Linked DNA regions of Homo sapiens. The protein of the gene in region 1 interacts with the protein of each later gene in a pairwise test. Each region holds a gene or a part of one and is shown on either strand. Other genes may lie near its edges.

The links. The genes of interacting proteins can lie anywhere in the genome.
Region 2: the proteins of CCDC33 (region 1) and PPP2R3C interact in a two-hybrid assay, tested with the Homo sapiens proteins (2 studies listed by BioGRID and IntAct).

Annotation. Positions count from the first base shown.
Region 1 is NC_000015.10:74,273,819-74,281,880, reverse strand, and holds part of CCDC33 (coiled-coil domain-containing protein 33), read right to left. Parts: intron 2,763-8,062; exon of another isoform or gene 2,589-2,762; intron 1,919-2,588; coding exon 1,789-1,918; intron 1,214-1,788; coding exon 1,080-1,213; intron 104-1,079; coding exon 32-103; intron 1-31.
Region 2 is NC_000014.9:35,090,217-35,098,278, forward strand, and holds part of PPP2R3C (serine/threonine-protein phosphatase 2A regulatory subunit B'' subunit gamma), read right to left. Parts: intron 6,549-8,062; coding exon 6,493-6,548; intron 6,418-6,492; coding exon 6,342-6,417; intron 4,969-6,341; coding exon 4,832-4,968; intron 992-4,831; coding exon 854-991; intron 1-853. UniProt on the Homo sapiens protein: May regulate MCM3AP phosphorylation through phosphatase recruitment. May act as a negative regulator of ABCB1 expression and function through the dephosphorylation of ABCB1 by TFPI2/PPP2R3C complex.

The DNA.
Region 1 (8,062 bases):
GCCCTGACCCTCCCCTGGCCCACAGCCTTACCTCAGAGGAAAGCAGCTGGAAGGAGAGAGCCACTGTGGGGGCCTCATCATTGATAGTTTTCAGGCTGGTGTCCTGGGGAGGAAAAGGGAGCACTCAGACCATGCTGGCCAGGGCAGCTTCCGCCTCTGCCCCACCTACTGTTCTAGATTTCTCTGGAAGGTGTCACCTGCGGGCTGCACCCAGGAGGGTGGGAGGGAGGTGGGAGCTGGCCTCCTGCTTTTGCCCTCGCAAACTGCCTCCACACCACCCCTTCTAAACCCCTCTAGAGACCTGTCTGGCACTACCAGGCTCATCTGACAGAGAGATTCTCATTCATTGAGGTCTATTATGTCAGGATGGCCAGAAGTATTTTAGGGGAAATGGTGGCATAGGAATAGAGAATGATGGTAACGATATTATTCATTCTTGTTGAGAACTTACTCTAAGTGCTTTCCATGGGTTTTCTCATGAAATCTCACAGCAACCCTATGAAAAAAGTGCTATTGCCATGTACCCATTTTATAGGCAAGGAAACTGAGGCATTGACACTTTCAGTAGTTTTCCCATGGTCATGTTAGCTGGTATGTGGTGGAACCAGAATTTGGACCCAGACAGTCTGGCTCTAGAGCCTGAGCTCTGAACTCTCTTGTTATACACAGAGATTGTGTACTTGGCATGCTTCTCCTGTGTTACAGACGAGGACTCTTGTGGTTCAGTAATGTGCCTGAATTTCCACAGTGAGGATTTGAACTGTGGTTCAAATCAGGGTCTGGCTGGCTGAAAGCCTGAACTCTTGCACTGTCTCACAGGGTCACCCTGTACTTGTCTCCCAAGTTGCTCAGGGGCAATTTCTCTGGCTTGGTTCGTCATAGTCCCAGAGGCAAGACTGGCTTCTGGGGTTCCAGGGAGCTCCTCACTTCTAGACTGGGTGACTTCCCTGGTGGGTGCCTTGACAGAAGCTTCTGGAGAAGCCAAATTCTCCTATGGAGGTGTGGTGAGGTGGGGCAGGGTGAGGCAGGGTGGGGCCAGGTGGGCACGCTAGGGGCCCAGTTCAGGGCAGGGGGCTCACCATGATGGGGAGCCGCTCCACGTGAAGCCCGTCCAAGCCTTTCCCTGTCAGCATCTTCTGGTACAAACGGCTCTTTAGCGGCAACACAGAGATGCCCAGGGGCTGGTTGAGGGTCCACGGCTGGCTGCCTTTCACTGTGGGGGAAGGATCAACTAGGGCTCCTGCCAAAGCCCCCACCTCGGCCCCATCCTTTAATACCTGACATCCAGTCCTCCTGTCTCCCGCTGCCTGCTTTCCTGCCTCCTGGCCTTTCCCTGCACATACATCCTCTTCTCATCTTCAGGGCTTTGTGAACTCAAAGCCAACTCTAAACATACTCTGTGTGTCTGGGAATTTATATACATCAGCCTCATCTCTACCCTTTGGGGGCTTCAATCCCACAGTGCAGAAAACTGTGGATCAGCTGGTCTCTGAAGCCCATCTCCCTCACCCCTCTCTGTGAGTTCCGAGGGCTCCAGCCCTCCCCCATCACTGATGGGTGCAATAAAACAAAGCTTGGGGCCAAGACCTAGTATGGGACAGGCCCACGTGTCCTGGCCTGTGGACAAGGAACGCAGCCAGCTCTCCTCTGCCTGCATTAGGAAGCCGCCTGGACACCTGGGAACCATCCATCCCTGTGGGAGGCAGAGGTGGGATGGTCTGAACACCCTTTCATAATACAGATCTCCTGAGGCATGGCTGCCCTGGCGAGGCACCAGGGGTCACGTACTTGAAGTTGAGGAGTAGTACTCCAGCACCAGGGCTGTGTCTTCTGAGAAGCTGGTAGCTCCATCTCGGCCTTGGAAGAGGAAGGACTGATTCCACAGGGGCTGCTCTGGGGGTCCCCCAGGCTTGGACAGCTGGAGGGAGAGGGTAGGAGCAGGTGGTGGGGGCCACAGCTTCTCCCAAATCAAGGCATACACAGATATTTGGTTTTGTGTATCTAGATTTGTCACAAATGTTTCTCCCAACTATAAAAGCAAGCTGGCTGGGCACAGTGGCTCACGCCTGTAATTCCAGCACTTCGGGAGGCCAAGGCAAGTGGATCACTTGAGGTCAGGAGTTCAAGACCAGCCTGGCCAACATGGCAAAACCCTGTCTCTACTAAAAATACAAAAATTAGCTAGGTGTGGTGGGGGACTCCTGTAATCCCAGCTACCCAGGAGGCTGAGGCAGGAGAACTGCTTGAACCCGGGGGGGCAGAGGTTGCCCTGAGATGAGATTGCGCCACTGTACTCCAGCCTGGGTGACAGAGCGAAACTCCGTCTCTAAATAAATAAAATAAATAAATAAATAAATAAACAAATAAATGCAGCACACACCTAATAAATACATTTAGGAAAATGCAGAAAAATAGGAAGAAGAAAAACAGCTCCTGTGTTCCTATGATAAACACAATAATTCATAAAACTGTGCTTCTTCCTAGTTTTTTTCTGTGTATATTTTGTGTATAATCACCATTCTAGCATCCTGCATTTTTCATTTGCCAGTAAAACCTAAGCAGATCCAAAGTCACAGAAAGCTCATTACCCATGACTTGAGTAACTTCAGGATATGAAGTTCATGTCCAAGTGCCCTGATTTCTTCCTTCCCATTTTTCCCTGTAATAACACTGCATTGAACGTTCTCTGCTACATATCTTCATGTCGCAAATTACTTCCTTAGTACAACTACCTAAAATGGAATTGCTGGGTTATAGGACATGTGTATTTTAGGACACCTCATTCATTATTGGTAAACTGTTTTCCTAAAGTGTTGTATCTGTGTTCACACCCATGGCTGGTGGTGTCACAGATGCCAAGTTAGACATGACCTCTGTCTGTGTCACCAGCCCCTCTCTTTCCCACACAGTTTCCCCAGCCCCTTGCAGAGGCCAAGACATCTCTGCAGACTACAGAGGCTCCGTGTGCCCGCAGTGTGGGCCAGTGGGCACTCGGGGGACTTGATGGCACCCTAGGTCAGCAGTTAGGGCACACACATGGGTATGATTTAAACAATGAAACAAGACAGTATTAACTGTAGCACTGCCCAATAAGAGAGCTATATGAAATATTCCCATGGGTGGTCAGAAAAGCCTCCTTAAAGGAAGCAGAACCAGAGAAAGGCTCTGAAGGAAGGTCTGGCTGGGTGAAGAGAGGGATAAAGGTCTTCAGGATGGGAAAACAGCACAATCAAAAATGTGGAGTGGCACTGAGCACACCCTGTGCAGAGGACGCCTGAAATGAGGAGAGACTCCAGGGGGAGGCCCAGCATCTGCCAAGGCCAGAAGGTGGGAGATGGGAGATGGCCATCGGCCCATAACTCCCAGCAGGCAGCCCTGCAGGGTCCCAGCACAGGGCGGGGCTGCGGGTCGTTGCTACAGACCCACCAAGTGGCTGCCTTGCCTCTGTTCCCCAGCCAGGGGCTGTCAGCAACAGTAGCAGCCGCTCCCACCTCCTGCTCCCCCACAGGAATCAGTCATTGCTCGAAAAGGTCAGCACAAATGCACTGCGGCTCCAGGAGTTATTGATGCAGGATCATGAAATATCAGTGTAGGTCCACTTCCCCACAGTGGCAGGGTGCTGATGACGGTCACACTAATGGGCCTGGTTTGTCCAGGCCCAGCCCAAGGCTCAGCTGTGTCTGCCCCTGCCCCTGGGGAGATGGGTTGCAGTCACTGCAGGGCTAGGGTGCCCTGGACACCTGAACAGAGACTGCAATGATGGGAACATCCCACTTCTTATGGGAGCTTGGCCAACAGGTCCGGTGAGAGAAGTTGGTTCTGACTTCTGTGGGGCTTGGGAGTGATCTTTCAAGATTGATCCCCAAACCATGTCCCTCCCAGAGTCACCCCATTCTCCTGGGTGCAGGAGGGTCCACATGGCTGGGACTGTCTGCCAGGCATTGGGGCACCTGTGACTCAGTCCCCTGCCGTCCATACCTTGCTCCTACCCTGGAAGAGGGTTATTTAGTAGACGCTAGCTGCCCTTTCTGGGACCTATTCATGTGTCTAAATGGAGCCTATGAAGCCAGAGGTGGTGAGTGGCTGCCGGCCCAATAAGGAACAGCCCTTTCCCTGAGTAGTTTCCCAGGGCAAGTCACTTAGGAAAGATCACTTCAGACCTAGGACTGGGGAGGGAGGGTCAGCCTGTCTTGTGCATGTGCAGGCAGGAGTGGTGGGAACTCAAAGTTAGAAGACCTGCAGTCTGACGCCAGAGCCCTGGTGAGGGTACTGTGGCTGATGTGTGTGCAGGATGGGGGCGGGGAGAGGCAGGCATCGCCTGCAGATGCTAATGGAAGGGCCACAGCGGTAGTGGAATTATGGAATGTCATTAACCCTCAGCTGTGATCTTCAGAAAAGCCATTAACCCCCAGCCATGGAGGCAGACCTGCTTCCCCTGGGGACAGAGCCTTCATTCCATGGCCCCTCCACGCCCACCGCCTTATTTCCCCTGGGCCCACCCACATCCACCTCTGCCTGCTCTGCCCAGGCATAGTGGCCGCCATCTGGAGGAGTAGCTGCTGGGAGCAGATGCTGGGCTGGGGTCTCTAGGGATCTAGGACCCCTTGGCTCTGGGTCTGGGTCTGCCTCAACCTTGCTGTGTGGCCTTCAAGTCCCTTCTCCTCTTTGGGACCTACTTTTCCCATCATCCCATGGGGATATGCCTCAAACTCCTCACTTTGAAAGCCTGTTGTAAGGTTAAAGGAGACAATGGATGTTTTGCTATTAAGATGTAAGTTCAACTTCACTGAACTCAGCAAATGTTGACTCTGGGGGGCTTCTCCATTCCAGATGCCTGTGGGGTGCTGTAGAGCCAGACTCTGCCCCCGACCCTGTAGCCCACCATCATCCAGGAGGATAGGGGACAGACAGACAGACAGACAGACAGACACACACACACAAACATGTAGAGTCCTAAGCAAGCTGTGGTTGTGGGAGCTGGGGTGTGCGAGGAGAAAGCCATGACTTCTGACCCCATTCCTCAGGGAGGACCTGAAGGACAAGGGCAGTAGGTAAGGAAGAGGAAGGCCATTCCAGACTGCGAGTGCAGCAGAGGTGGAGGCTGGAGGTGGGAAGGGGCAGTGTGGGTGTGGAGAACAGCAAGCTGTCCAGTGGGGCTGCAGAATGCCTGTATGAGCTGGAGCCATAAGCCAGGAGGCTGGAGGGCACAGGGCCTGTGGACCTGGCTGAGAGTGGGATTTGCCTTGTCGTGATAGTAACAGGGGGCCCAGGGGAAGGGCTAGGCAGGGGATGCCCTGGCTGCTCCTCAGAGAATGGATGGCAGGGGCCTGAGGGGAGGCTAGCACTAGGGCAGGGTCTGTGGGGATGGAAGGGGCCCCAGGAGAGCTTGGGGACAGGCCAGCTGTGGGGCTGAGAGAGGAGGGGATGGTGGTGGGCACACATGGCTTCCCGGAGCTCCACTCCAGCTCTGTAGGAGACCAGAACAACAGGAGCAGCCTGTTGGGCAATGGGCCCCTTCCAAGGTGCCGGGGTAGGAGTAACTTACACGGCCCACCCTATGTTGGTTCCAGCAGGCTGGACCAGGTGAAGTCCGACAGGCCATCTACCCCTTAACTCACCAGTTCAGCCTTTGCCATCATCACCAGGCTCCACTGAGGGCCACCTAGCCCACCACCATGCCCCTCCTTGCCTCATCACCAGCAGATGGCCCTTGGGTTCGGGTGGCTCCGCCTCCATAACCTTCCACATTTATACCAGCAAGGCAGAGCCACACCCCTCCTTAGTGATTGGCTCAGGGAAGTGCATGTAACCCAATCCTGGCTAATCAGACAGGAAGGAGGTCTGCTGAGGGATGGCTGGGTAAGGTTGGTTTCCAGTTGCTCTTTAAAACCACCTACAAGAAGAGAGGGTGCTGCTGGGTGCGGTGCCTCAGGCCTGTAATTCCAGCACTTTGGGAGGCCAAGGTGGGCGTATCGCCAGAGGTCGGGAGTTCAAGATCAGCCTGGTTAACATGGTTGAACCCTATCTCTACTAAATATACAAAATTAGCTGGGCATGGTGGCGCTCGCCTGTAATCCCAGATACTCGGGAGGCTGAGGCAGGAGAATTGCTTGAACCCAGGAGGCAGAGGTTGCAGTGTGAGCCAGGATTGCGCCACTGCACTCCAGCCTGGGGGACAGAGACTTGGTCGCAAAAAAAAAAAGAGAGGCTGCCTCTTATCTGCTGGTCTTTCATTCTATTTGGATGAAGTGCCCCCATGAGCCGTTAGCCAGCTGAAGATGGTAATTCGGGGTGTTGGAAAGATCCTGAGACCTCGAGGATGCTTCTGAGCCTGAGCATCCACCAATTCTGGCAGCATTCTATGTCGTGAGTTGATGTGGTGTGTGACAATAAATATCCTTAGTATTTAAGCCGATCCAAGTTGGGGTTTCTGTTACTTGGAGCCAGATGTGAAAAGGGCAGTGGTGAGGCTGGCCTCAGAGGGGACACTGGCACTAGGGGAGGTACAGCTCTGTTAAGAGTGGAACCCATTTACCTTGGACCCTGGGCCTGGACACTTTGCAAAGATTATCCTTTGAGTTCTCCTAACAGATTGGAATCAATGAGTCTGGAGAAAGGAGCAGCTTACCAAAGGTCATGCAGCCAGTAAGTTACAGAGCTGGGGTCAAACCCAGGTCAAACAGTGCTTTTGCACAGTGACAGTTGGTGAGAAATCACAGCCCCCCAAGATGTCAGAGAGGGCAGGCCCTAAAATTACCAAGTCCAATCCCACCCCCTCAAGTGTAGAGATGAGGGGACTGACGCTCAAAGGGAACAGGGCAGGGGTCTGTGTGAAGACTGAGCTCACGCTGCTGACTGGTGCCCCTCCAGGTATGGCTCTGCCCGGGCAATCCCCACCCCTCCTTACCACAGCAGCCTGCTCCTGTTCTCTCACTGCTGCACCTGGGCACCTCTGTGCCAGCTGCCAGCAAATTCCCAACCTGGCCCAGCTGCCATGGGGTTGGGTGATGTTCAACAGGTGTCCTGCCATTGCTGGACCGGGTCCCACACATGCAAAAGGCACTGGGAACAAGTCTCTGTAGTGAGTGGCACCTCTCCTACCCAGACTAGTTAGGCAGCAAAGGCAGCCAGAGAAAGCCTGGGGGTGGGAGGGGGCACACTCATTAAAGCAGGCAGTGCCTCTTGCCCCTTGGGACAGCCTGCTGATTGGTTCTTAATTTTCTGGGCAAATGCAGGGCCATGTGTGAGGTAACTCTAGGGAAATCAGGCAAAGGATTGGTTTGGGTTTGAAGCCTCTGTCCCCAGGGTCCCCCTTTGTCCCACTCCTCCCCACCACCATCACTCTACCCCATGTCTGAGCCTTCTTCAAATGTCTTTGCCTTTAAATGAAGCCTGGGCTCCAAAGGGGTGTCTTGTTCTATTTTTGCTATGCCAGACATAAGCACTGGTGGGCAGACAATAGGAGGGACCTCCAAAAATCCCTCTGTCCCCCAAGGCCCCTAGGAATGTTGGGACCATCGTGTAGGGCAAGCTGGCAGTGAAGCGCAGATCATGAGAAGAGACCAATCTGGCTATTCCCCTGAACCCAGCCATGTTCTGTGCGTGCACCCGCCCCCAACCTCATACTCAAACACACAGCCCTCCTGTCTGCCCTGACATGGGTCATAGCCTGCCTGTCTCCACCTCACACTTGTGCTATTGCTGTGTCCAACCTGTACCAACCCTTCCTCTGTTAAAAATTCAAGACTGCCGGCTGAGTGCAGTGGCTCATGCCTGTAATTCCAGCACTTTGGGAGGCCGAGGTGGACAGGTCACAAGGTCAGGAGTTTGAGACCAGCCTGGCCAACATGGTGAAACTCCATCTCTACTGAAAATACAAAAATTAGCCGGGCATGGTGGCGGGTGCCAGTAATCCCAGCTACCTGGGAGGCTGAGGCAGGAGAATTGCTTGAACCTGGGAGGCGGAGGTTGCTAGTGAGCCAAGATGGTGCCACTGCACTCCAGCCTGGGCAACAAGAGCAAGACTCTGTCTCAAAAAAAAAAAAAAAAATTCAAGACTGCC
Region 2 (8,062 bases), on another chromosome or scaffold:
TATAGACTTTGGTAGTTGTAGTTTTTTTTTTTTTTTTTTTTTTGAGACCGAGTGTTGCTTTGCTGCCCAAGCTAGAATGCAGTGACGCGATTTCAGCTCACTGCAACCTCCGCCTCCTGGGTTCAAGTGATTCTCCTGCCTCAGCCTCCCAAGTAGCTGGGATTACAGGCATGTGGACCCAGTTATTGGGGAGGCTGAGTGGGAAGACTGCCTGAGCCCAGGAGTTGGAGGTTGCGGCGAGCTATGATCATGCCACTGCAGCCTGGGCGACAGAGCCAGACCCTTTCTCAAAAAAAGAAAAAAATAAATAAAAATCACGAGTTAGGTAAAATGGTTACTAAATATTTAATTTAAACCAAATGATATATCTTTAATTTGCTCTTCTTTTTCTAATTTCCTAAAGTAGATGCTGATTTTAGATCTTTAACATTTTCCAGTATATGCATTCAATACTATAAATTTCCCTCTAGCCACTGCTTTTGCTGCATCTCACAATTTTTTTTTTTTTTTTTTTTTTGAGACGGAGTCTCGCTCTGTCGCCCAGGCTGGAGTGCAGTGGCACGATCTCGGCTCACTGCAAACTCTGCCTCCCGGGTTCACGCCATTCTCCTGCCTCAGCCTCCCAAATAGCTGGTACTACAGGCACCCACCACCACACCTGGCTAATTTTTTGTATTTTTAGTAGAGACGGGGTTTCACCATGTTAGCCAGGATGGTCTCTATCTCCTGACCTTGTGATCCACCTGCCTCGGCCTCCCAAAGTGCTGGGATTACAGGCGTGAGCCACTGCACCGGCAGCAACAAAATGATATATCTTAAGGAACAATGACTCACTTATGCAAATGAGACTTACCCTAAAGAAATAATTAAGTGAAAAGACATTCAGGTATCCTTTGTTCTCAATATCAAGCAGTTTGAAAATATATTGTAGAGCTGCAGGTTCCTTTCTGTTTTCTAATGCAAGGACAAAGTCCAAGTAGGTCTTATAGTCCTACAGAACAGAAAATAATGTTCATTAGAGGCCTTAGTTGAAATTAACTTTCAAGTGAATATCTTATGATTTGAAGCTATTTTGCAATCAAAGGTGGCAAATTTAATTTTTTCCCTAAGTTATGATATGAGAAATCCATTTATATACTTAATATTGGTTTCTAGGGAATTTTTTTCGAGACAGAGTTTCACTCTCATTGCCCAGGCTGGAGTTGCAATGGCACAATCTTGGCTCACCACAACCTCCACCTCCCGGGTTCAAGCAATTCTCCTGCCTCAGCCTCCGGAGTAGCTGGGATTACAGGCATGTGCCACCATGCCTGGCTAATTCTGTATTTTTAGTAGAGATGGGGTTTCTCCATGTTGGTCAAGCTGGTCTCGAACTCCCGACCTCAGGTGATCCGCCCGCCTCAGCCTCCCAAAGTGCTGGGATTATAGGTGTGAGCCACCCTGCCCAGCCATAGGAATTCTATATATAATCTACACAGGACAGTTTTGAGGACATAGTTCTTTTTTATTTATTTATTTTTTTGAGACGGAGTCTTGCTCTATTGCCCAGGCTGGAGTGCAGTGGTGCAATCTCAGCTCACTGAAACCTCTGCCTCCCAGGTTCAAGCGATTCTCCTGTCTCAGCCTCCCAAGTAGCTGGGAATACAGGTGCACACCACTATGCCCAGCTAATTTTTATATTTTTAGTAGAGACAGGATTTTCCATGTTACCCAAGCTGGTCTCAAACTCCTGACCTCAAGTGACCCGCCTGCCCCGGCCTCCCAAAGTGCTGGGATTATAGGCATGCACCACTGTGCCCAGCCCTAGTTCATTTTTTTATGAGAGATTTGCTGTGTTAAACTATAATTTTCTTTCATTATTCTTGTTTTTGAGACAGGGTCTCACTTTATCAACCAGGCTGGAGTGCAGTGGTACGATCATAGTTCACTGCAACCTTGATCTCCCAGGCTCAAGCAATCTTCCCACTACAGCCTCCGAGGCAGCTGAGACTACAGGTACACGCCATCACACTTGGCTAATTTTTTAAATTCTTTGTAGAGATGGGGTTTTCCTGTATTACCCATGCTAGTCTCAAACTCCTGGGCTCAAGCAATCATCTGGCCTCGGCCTCCCAAAGTGCTGGGACTAGAGGGATGAACTACTGCATCCTGCTTCAAACTTTTGAAACAGATGACTAAGCTATAAACTTATAACTTCATTTCAGTGCAGTTATTTTGAAAAACAAATTTTTTATCTGGAATGAACAGAACAGTATAATTTTTTTTTTGAGATGGAGTTTCGCTCTTGTTGCCCAGGCTGGAGTGCAATGGCGCGATCCTGGCTCACCACAACCTCTGCCTCCCAGGTTCAAGTCATTCTCCTGCCTCAGCCTCCTGAGTATCTGGGATTACAGGCATGCACCACCACGCCTGGCTAATTTTGTATTTTTAGTAGAGAAGCGGTTTCTCCAAGTTGGTCAGGCTGGTCTCAAAACTCCCAACCTCAGGTGATCCACCCACCTCGGCCTCCCAAAATGCTAGGATTACAGGTGTGAGCCACCGTGCCCAGTCTCAGAACAGTATATTTAAATTGCTATTTTAAAATATTGTTTAAAATTTTTAATTCAGATTTCCAATAAGAAGCTGTCTTGAGATTGCCAGACATTTTACAGTGAGCTGACACTGCTCTCATCCATAAAAAGGCAAAATGGAAAGGCCAGAAAGACATGAAGAGAACAGAAAGCCTTCCCTATAAAAACAGGATACGCACTTCGGGGGGCCGAGGCGGGCAGATCAGAAGGTCAAGAGATCGAGACCATACTGGCTAACACGGTGAAACTCCGTCTCTACTAAAAATACAAAAAAAAATTAGCCGGGCATGGTGGCGGGCGCCTGTAGTCCCAGCTACTCGGGAGGCTGAGGCAGGAGAATGGCGTCAACCCGGGAGGCGGAGCTTGCAGTGAGCCGAGATCGCGCCACTGCACTCCAGCCTGGGCGACAGAGGGAGACTCCATCTAAAACAAAAACAAAAACAACAAAACAAAACAAAAAAACAGGATACTCAGATTTTTTTTTTAATGGTAAAAAGTAGTAATTGGGAGGTTCTCACTTAGATAAAAATTTTATATTCTTAGAAAAGTTCCTTTCTGCATAAATAGCACTAAAGAGTTAAAGAATGCAGATTGTGATCTGACTTCATCCATAGTTGTAGCCTGATTTTCTCTATTCATCAGGAATCATTATATTAATAATATAAGCTCCTCACTGTCTATTGTTTACAGCTGTGGGAGTTACAAAGTAAATTTTCTGTGCCTTTTCCCCTCTTTTCTTTTGTTGTTACTAATGGTGTTATTTAGCAAACTGCTATTGAAGCTAAATGATAAATGTAAGACCCCCCCATTCTCATGACAATATGACTATTTTTTAAGCATAACTGGTTTGGGAAATTTATCAGATTCTTTTTTTTTTTGAGATGGAGTCTCGCTCAGTTGCCCAGGCTGGAGTGCAGTGGCGCCATCTCGGCTTACTGCAAGCTCCGCCTCCCGGGTTCACACCATTACACCATTCTGCCTCAGCCTCTGGAGTAGCTGGGACTACAGGTGCCCGTCACCGCACCCAGCTAATTTTTTGTATTTTTAGTAGAGACGGGGTTTCACCGTGTTAGCCAGGATGGTCTCCATCTCCTGACCTTGTGATCCACCCGCCTCGGCCTCCCAAAGTTATCAGATTCTTAACCCATGTTTTTAGCAGCAAAAATGGTGATTTTAAAATGCTGTTTAGAATTTTCCTTCTCAAGTATTTTGCATTGTTATAATAAAAAGACAAGTGCATGTTATCTTCAGCTGTTCATATAGCCACTTCTAGAGACTAATACAACCTGATTCTCAGAATTAAATCATGGCATATGTGTTACTACATTTGACCTGGTAATTTAATGACGGAACTATCTAGCTGAAAATAGCCAGAATAATTTACTAATGTTTCAGCTTTTAAGAGACATGGTCTCACTCTACTGCCCAGACTGGAGTGCAGTGGCCTCATCATAGCTCACTGCAGCCTCAAATTCCTCAGGTCAAGCAATCCTCCTGCCTCAGCCTCCCGAGTAGCTATACTACAGGCACATTCCATCCATGCCCAAGTAATTTTTTTATTTTTTGTAGAGACAGTCTCGCTGTATTGCTCAGGCTAGTTTTGAACGACTGGCCTTAAGTGGTTCTGTGGCCTTGGCCTCCCAAAGCGCTGGGATTATAACCATAAGCTACCAAGCCTGGCCTCAGCTTTTTTTTAAAAAAAAAAAAAAACTAGAATGCACTACTGTACAGTAGGTGCACTGACAATGAAATGAACAATAAGCTTTTCTATTTGCCCTGAGGCCATAATGCAGATGTTTTAATTTACGTTAAGACCAAAGACTCTGAATCTCAAGTAATTTGATCAGTTTACACATTTTAAAGACACTGTTACACAGTGATATCAATAATGCTGGGCCGAGTGTGGTGGCTCACGCCTCGTAATCCCAGCACTTTGGGAGGCAGATCACCTGAGGTCAGGAGTTCAAGACCAGCCTGGCCAACCTGGTGAAACCCCATCTCTCCTAAAAGTACAAAAATTAGCTGGATGCAGTGGCATGCACCCATAATCCCAGCTACTCCGGAGGCTGAGGCAGGAGAATCACTTGAACCTAGGAAGTGGAGGTTGCATTGAGCGGAGATCACACCACTGCACTCTAGCCTAGGCGACAGAGCAAGACTCTGTCTCAAAAAAAAAAGGGCTGTATTACATCAAGAAAAGGGTTTGTGGAAACTCTGGGAGCCTAAACTTTTAAAACTTAGCAGCAGATTTAAACTACTACCATTTCTCCATCATAAGTGAGACACTCCTGGAAAACACGGTCTAAGAAGACATTGGTCATGGTAGCTGTTCCATAGCGTGAGAGTTCTTCTTTACTGAGCATGCCATTGTGATCTTTATCAAGATTCAAGTACTGGCCTTGGGAAGAAAAATAATAAAGACACTTATGACCACAATAAAATTTTAATCAGAAGAATAGACTAACAAAAAGTTTTTTCTTGGTTAATATTTTGATTTTCAAACTATTCATGTTATGATTAGGGTAGTGGCCTATGTGTAATACTATCAGCTACCTTTGCAATCTTGATCAGAAAAACCCTTGGGCTAGAAACAGCCAAAAAAACCCATCATGAAGGCCATAGTCTCTGGGCTGTTTCACTTACATCATTATTTGTTTTCAGTTTGCAGTCTTTTTAAACATTCCTAGGTTTCTAAATTAAATGGAGGTAGAGGCCAACAAAAAGCACTGAAATGCTAGCACTTGAAAGTAGAGATAAGAATGCCAAAAGGAGGTCGGGCGTGGTGGCTCACGCCGGTAATCCCAGCACTTTGGGAGGCTGAGGAGGGCAGATCAGAGGTCAGGAGTTCCAGACCAGCCTGGCCAACATAGTGAAACACCGTCTCTACTAAAAAAAAAAACAAAAAAAAAAAACATTAGCCGGGTGTGGTGGCGAGCGCCTGTAATCCCAGGTACTTGGGAGGCTGAGGCAAGGAGAATCACTTGAACCTGGGAGGTGGAGGTTGCAGTGAGCCGAGATCATGCCACTGGACTCCAGCCCAGGTAACAGTGCAAGACTCTATCTCCAAAAAAAAAAAAAAAAAAAAAAGCCAAAGGAGTCAAAAGACCACCCAACAAGATAATGTAGATTAGCTCCATCAGTAGACCCTGGGAATAGCATTTTATCAACAAAGCATGACAATAGCTAATGTTCATAATGATGCTCCTGAGTCAACAAGGATCAAATTACATTCTGTTCTATTGAAAAGGAAGTGTATAACTTAAAAAGGGTTCTGCTGGGTGCAGTGCCTCATGCCTATAATCCCAACACTTTGGGAGGTCAGGGCAGGTGGACTGCTTGAGCCCAGGAGTTTGAAACCAGCCTGGGCAACACAGTGAGATCCCATCTCTAAAAAAACATAAAATAAATTAGCCAGGCATGGCGCCTGTAGACCCAGTACTGGGGGTGGTGGGGTGGGTGGGGTAGGGGCACTGAGGTGAGAGGATTGAGCCTAGGACTTCAAGGCTGCACTGAGCCGTGATCATGTCACTGCACTCCAGCCAGTGTGACAGAGTGAGACCCTGTCTTCAAAAAGAAAAGGTTGGGGGGAGTCCAAAAAGTTAAAACATCGGTATTTAAACAAGTAAATTTTGGTAATGTAGAATACTAAAGCTTAAGGTAATTAAATATTTTGATCTTAAGGTATATCAGTGTATGTATAAAACTGTCCTCTGAACACCAATTTCCTGAAGAATGGATAATTCAAATTTTAGCATTATGATAGGAACATACCATAAACTCTTAGGGCAGAAGGAGCAGAAAACCAATTTGTTTCTTGACTCTCCTTGGACAGTTCCTCATCCCTTAGCTAATGGAACACAAAGACATAATTAGAAGATAGCAACTGTCAAGTGATACAATTAAGTAGTTTAAAAACATTTACCTCCAATAAATCATCTAGGAAGCTGCATGCTAAAATATCTTGAATTTTTATCTTTCCTTTAAGAACATAAAGAAACACAATTAATTTCATTTTAAGAAAAGAGCAACTCAATTAATTAAAAAAAAATTTTTTTAACAAGAGCAATCACACAATTGATATTTTAAAGCTTCTAGCTCTTATGCTCCAAAGTCCTTATTACATATTGCTACAAAAAGGGAAATCTCGGCTGGGCGCGGTGGCTCACCGCGTAATTCCAGCACTTTGGGAAGCTGAGGCAGGTGGATCACCTGAGGTCAGGAGTTCCAGACCAGCCTGGCCAACATGGTGAAACCCCATCTCTACTAAAAACACAAAAAATTAGCTGGGTGTGGTGGAGGGCGCCTGTAATCCCAGCTACTCTGGAGGCTGAGGCAGGAGAATCGCTTGAACCTGGGAGGCAGAGGTTGCAGTGAGCTGAGATCAAGCCATTGTACTACAGCCTAGGGAACAAGAGCAAAACTCCATCCCCACCCTGCAAAAAAAAAAGAGAAACCTACAGGCAACATTTAATAACATCTCTACTTGTATACCTCAACTATATAAATCTAAGTGGTAAATTCTAAAATTATACTGATGTCAGATTTTCAAAAAAGTTGTGATTATAGATATAGTACTGCTGGTACACGAACAGGGACACTGTCTCCATTTATTTTTGGCAGGTTCTGGACTAGAAAGCAATACGCAGGTAAACAGGTGTGGTTTAAGAGCAGAGTTTGTTTTGTCTTGTTCTTGTTCTTTTTTTTTTTTTTTTTGAGACAGAGTTTCGCTCTTGTTGCCCAGGCTGGAGTGCAATGGTGTGATTTCAGCTCACTGCAATCTCTGCCTCCTGGGTTCAAGCGATTCTCCTGCCTCAGCCTCCTAAGTAGCTGGGAATACAGGCACCCACCACCACATCCAGCTAATTTTTTCTATTTTTAGTAGAGATGGGGTTTCACTATGTTGGCCAGGCTGGTCTTGAACACCTGACCTCAGATGATTCACCCATCTTAGCCTCCCAACGTGCTGGGATTACAGGTGTGAGCCACTGCGCCTGGCTGCTGCTGCTTTTTTGTACAGAAGAGGTCTGTCTTGCCAGGGCTGGTCTTGAACTCCTAGGCACCAGTGATTTCTCACCTCAGCCTCCCAAAGTGCTGGGATTACAGGTGTGAGCCACCACACCTAGCCCAGATTGGAGTTTGAATGCCACTTTTAAATATGTAACCTAGCAAAGTCTCAGTTGCCTTACACATAAAATGTGGACAATAATGTACCTTCCTTATGGGGTTATGAGATGAAAATGAATGAATCCATGTAAAATGCTTAGCATACTACATAAGTCAAAACGTGATATTATTTTGTAAAATTTGAAAAAGTATATATGTGTGTACTTATAGTAGAGGAGTTCAAAAAACACTGTCAGCTACCATATGCTGTGATTGGATTCATAACTGGATTTTTTTTTTTTTTTTTTGGACACAAGGTCTGGCTCTGTTGCCCAGACTGAAGTGCAGTGGCCCGATCTTGGCTCACTGCAGCCTCTGCCTCCTGGGTT